Regions from separate parts of the Homo sapiens genome. Here region 2 is linked to region 1. Evidence: fine-mapped expression QTL. A gene starts in region 1. The other region holds a variant in brackets. All regions are shown on one strand. Distances are between the middles of the regions. Region 1 holds the start of FAT4 (FAT atypical cadherin 4). Region 2 overlaps FAT4 (FAT atypical cadherin 4).

Region 1 (2,500 bases):
ATGACAGTAGCCAAAACACTCGAAGGAGCTGAGATACTGATAGAGTGTGCAACGGGAGCCACGGGCGGCCAGTAGCCCTGTCTGGTGCTAAGTCCATGGTCCTGGCTCCCTAAAACGATGTGATAAAGAGAAGGAAGGGGTGAAGCAAACGCAATGATATTTACAGGGATTAAGGAGCGCCAGCAAAGATTCAGCTGACGGCTTGGTCTGAGACCTCTGCTATTTCAAAGAACCTCCAGTCCGGCAAAAGCAAGTAGCATCAGCAAAAGACTCTAGGTAGCCAGTTGAACGCGGAGTGCAAGAGAGATGCTGTGGCGAAAAGCGGCAGGGCATTCCGCGGGACACTCCTGTGAGCTGAGTTCCCAGAAAAGTTTCTCAAGCCTCTTATATATGCCCCCTTTTACTTTGTTTTTGAATCCAGATAGTCTGAGCGTTTTCACCCGGGTGGATGAGAGTTGGGAGAAGTTGCCTGTATCTAAGGTATATGAGGAATCATTGCAAAGAACGGTCTTCAGAAACTTTAGAACTTACCCGCAGCGAAGAACGTGAAGAGGGAGGAACAAACGTCCAAGCACAACTGCGCACCGGGGAAGGGGTGGTGGGGAACCGGGAGAATCGAATTTCTTTCCCAAAAGCTGGAGGCGATGGAATTCCTGGAGTCCCCACTCCTCAAAAACCAGGCTGCAACGCCCCTCCAACAGGGCGCCGGCAGTGGCCGCTGAGGCCCAGGCGGCGGCGTCTGCGCGCAGGCAGTTCGGGAACTGCGTTCCAAGCGCTAGCGTTCGCGCTCTGGCTCCCGTACCCGGGAGCGCTCAACTCTGCCCCTTCCCCTCCTGCAGCCGCCGCCGCCGCCGCCCCTGTTGCGGCTTCAAGCCCGTGGTCCGGCACAAACAACAGCCAGGGCTCCTCGGCATTTTTCACCTCTGCCGGGGCGCCTGCCGACCCATTATTTGTACATCCAAATCGAACGCAGTTTCCCCTTTCTTCTCGGCCTCGCAGGGGTCGGGCAGAAACAGCGTGCGGTCCCCGAGTCGCCCTCCCCTCACCATGCCAGGGGGGGTCGTTCTCCGGCGGCCCCAGTCAGAAGCCCACTCTAGCGCGCCTCGCCCCTGCCCTCGCTATCTCTGCTTTTATTGTCCCGTGTCAGTTTCACTTTGTAATCCACAAGGCTTTTTGTTTGGGGCGGGGGGTGGTTGATGCCTCTCTCTCCTTCACAGTTGGCAGCGGAGGCGGCGAAGTCGGCGCTGGGCTGTAGTGACGCCCTCCGCAGCTCCGGACGGCGCCTGTCAGCGCTCTCCCTCTCGCCGGCCGGGGCCGAAGGTTGGACTGCGGTGGAGCTAGGGCTCCGCGAGCCCTTCTCCACCTCCCGCCTGGTCCCTCACACTCTCCCCGCCCCTTCCCCGCCGCACAGGCATGCACACACACACACATACACACGCACACACACACACACAGCGCGTCGCCGAAACACAAACAGAGGGGGAGGGAAGACCGCGAGCTGGAGCAGCACTCAGAAACTTTGCTCGACACTCATTGATCCCCGCACTTTAGTTCGCCTGGACTCCCCCTAGCTCCCAGTCCTGTCACCTTCTGCCCCTCCCTCGCCCCAGCCCCATTGGGCCGGAGCTGAAGCAGCCCCGACCGGCACTCCTACCGCGAGCGCCCTCCGCCTTGCCCGGCCTCCGACTGGCTTCTCGGGATGCTAATCACTTCAGCCTCCCGGAGGGCTGTAGGCGGTCTGGTGTGGGAGCACAGCGAGGCGGAGGCGCTAAAAAGGGGGGTGATTTTTTTTCTTTTCTTTTTTTTTTTTTTTTTTCCTTTTCGGCCAAATCTTGGCCGGCGTCAGAGCAATAACAGCAAAAGGCTGCCGCAGAATAGATGGGGGTGGGGTCAGGTTTGCAGATAAATAACTTTAGTGGCAGGGTCTGGGGGAAGACCGTTAGGTTGTTATGCTAGTAATAACTCAGGGGTAAGGGGGTCGAGAGAAATAAAAGAAAGGCGGGGGGTGAGGGTCTGTTAAAGCGGGGAGGAAGGATTAAGCAAAGCCTGTCTGGGAATGCACAGTGCAGATTTGCTTTAACCATTTCCTGCCCCTTCTCTCTTTATGCAAGGGATAGAGCTGCCATACAGTGTGATCCCACAGAATCCAAATCAAATCCTCCCCTTTGCTCCTCTTTCTACACAGTGGGCTCCCTGCTGTCTAGGGCGAGCTAAACTCTAAATCTTCACTCACTTGCCCCTCTCCCCCACCTTCCAGGTGACTAGGGGGCAGGAGGCCTCCGTAGCAAGGGCACTTTGGACTTCCTACTATAGGAAAGGCCAGGGGAACTCAGTGTTTGTTTTGTTTTCTTTCCCAACTGGATTCCAGGTGCCAGTAGCCCAAACCTTAGGGTTTCAACAACAATAATAATGGCAGCCCTTTGAAAAGAGGGAGATCTTTTCCTGTTGCAAAGTTAGTTTGGAATTTTGATCCCTGATGGAGTATTTCCACCTCCACATT
Region 2 (2,500 bases), 72 kb before region 1:
TCTGCATTTTAACAAATTCTTAAGGATGCTCAAAAGTAAATGCAGAATAAAACATCAAGTTAAAATATGTGTGGTTGCATAAGAAACTTATGGAAATTTTTATACTATTCTTCAAAACAAACACCCTACAAATGCGTCCTGTAGTATATTTTTCAATAGATGTTAATCTGAATGTGGTAGACACATATCAAAGGGAAATTTTAGTATAAAACAAACAAACAAAAAATGCCACTAAATTTTTTCTTCTCTTTTTTTGCCTAATGTGTACTGGATACTATGAAATAAAGAAGGCTTCTATTCAAACTACTGAAAAATAAAGAAGTGGTTTGATTTCTATTAAAGGTACAAACTACGGTAGACTGAATTATTGGTCCCGTTACCCCTCCCCATAAACAACTTTGCAGTCCCTCCCACTAAAGGTGAGATTTTTCTCCTTGCCTTTTTTGGGCTCTTTCATAATATTTGGATTGGACAATGGGCTATCTATAAAAATAGCACAAGAAGGGGCTTAAAATACACTTATTCTTTTCTACCTCTGCCATGGTCACTAGAACAGTATGTTTCTGCTAGCCCACTACTACCAGAAAGACTAGAGATACTGAGTAGAGGAATCTCAGCTGGAAGGTTTTTAGACTGAAGCCAAGCTTCCTAGTTGAGTCTAGCCTAGAGAAGCCCAACTGCAGTTATCCAGAAATGTGTGAGGATAAAAGTGAATTTTTGTAGGCCTTTGAGATTTTTGTGGCTCTTTATTATGCAACATTATTCTGGCAGTAGCTAACAGATACAAAAGCCAAAACAATGAATTCATTAACTGGTTATTTTACTTTGTTTCCATGTTCTAAATAATTACTGGTCTAACATGAGCAGCACAAAGAAGAGTAAAAAGCTAATGTATATTGATCTGTTGTATGGCTTGTACTGGGAGTTTTATTTCTCTGAATCTATTAATACCTTTTCCTACCCTATATAGCTA[C/T]ACATTCTCACTTACCATGCCATACTGCTATCTGTCAGGGGCAACTCAAAATAATACATATCAAGTTCTTCCTCCCCCTCCAACAATCCAAAGATTAGAGGAGTGGTGGGAATACATGATCCAAGAGGAACGAATCATAGATTGGGGAGAGTTCATCAGATTGTGTTTTTTTAAGAATAGAAAATTTAAACAAACAAAAACAAAACAAAAACACAAAGAACATTGCAAGAACAAAATAATGGCACAAGTACAATAAGAAACAATGCAGCCCCCATGATAACATGGTCGCCATCTTTAGTGGTTTTCTAGAACCTACACGAGACTTGGCTATAGTTCTTTTATGGAATGACTGCAATGTCAAAATAATCACTCTTCCTCATTTCACATTTGCATAGTAGTCTTCACCTTTGCAGACATTTCTATTCTTTGATGCAAAAGACACAAACCTTTGACTCATAGCTATGCTATTCTATTTCAGTTGGTTATTAGTCTATAACAGGGGTCTCCAACCCCTGGGCACAGACCGGTACTGGTTTGTGGCCTGTTAGGAACCCGGCCCATAGCAGCAGGTGAGGGGCGGGCAAGTGAGCGTTACTGCCTGAGCTCTGCCTCCTGTCAGATCAGCTGCGGCATTAGATTCTCAAAGAAGGGTGGACCCTATTGTGAATGGTGCATGCGAAGGATCTAGGTTGCACGCTCTTTATGAGAATCTAATGCCTGATGGCCTGAGGTGGAACACTTTCATCCCAAAACCACCCTCCCACCCAGTATGTGGAAAAATGTCTTTCACCAAACTGGTCCCTGGTACCAAAAAGTTTGGGGACCACTGGTCTATAATAGTTATATGTCCTTATATCTTTTAAACAGCTATCTTAAACTATAAAATTAAAGTCTCTTTCTAGAGTCTTGTGTTGTATTTTTACTTCAAAACAATAACAAATTTAATTTATATGAAACAGCTTTAGCTCACTAATAAACAGTAATGAATAAAATTTTATGTGATATAAATTGTAAAGTATATGTTCTAAAGAAATTCAACTTATCAAAATCAATTTTTTGGAAATGCATTGTTCTTTAATTCTATTTAGACATCCTATTTTTCTAAACTCAGGGCCAGGTGCAGTGGCTCACACCTATAATCCCAGCACTTTGGGAGGCCAAGGTAGGTGGATTACTTGAGGTCAGGAGTTTGAGACCAGCCAGGCCAACATGATGAAACCCTGTCTCTACTAAAAATACAAAAATTAGCCAGGTGTGCACCTGTAATCCCAGCTACTCAGGAGGCTGAGGCAGGAGAATCACTTGAACCCCAGAGGTGGAGGTTGCAGTAAGCCGAGATGGTGCCACTGCACTCAAGCCTGGGCAACAGAGTGAGAATCCGCCTCAAAAAAATCAAAACAAAACAAAACAAAACTCAGAAAGCCTGCTTCTTTTCTAAGTTTCAAACAGTGAAACATTTAGATCAGTTTCAATATAACGCCTAGGGTACAGAAGGCATTTAATGTACATTTATTCAATGATGTAAAA

The links. PIP is the estimated chance that this variant, and not a neighbour inherited with it, causes the effect.
Region 2: its variant is fine-mapped to the expression of FAT4 in blood mononuclear cells (TOPMed, PIP above 0.99).

The regions. Positions count from the first base shown.
Region 1 is chr4:125,314,009-125,316,508 of GRCh38, reverse strand. FAT4 (FAT atypical cadherin 4) reads right to left here and starts at 1,554. Exons shown (of 18, transcript NM_001291303.3): 1 at 532-1,554; 2 at 1-109. The coding sequence starts at 97.
Region 2 is chr4:125,386,154-125,388,653 of GRCh38, reverse strand. The region is part of intron 2 of FAT4 (FAT atypical cadherin 4); the gene reads right to left. Among named protein-coding and RNA genes, the nearest start is that of FAT4, 72 kb to the right of the region's middle. The variant C/T (reference allele first, on the strand shown) is at 974.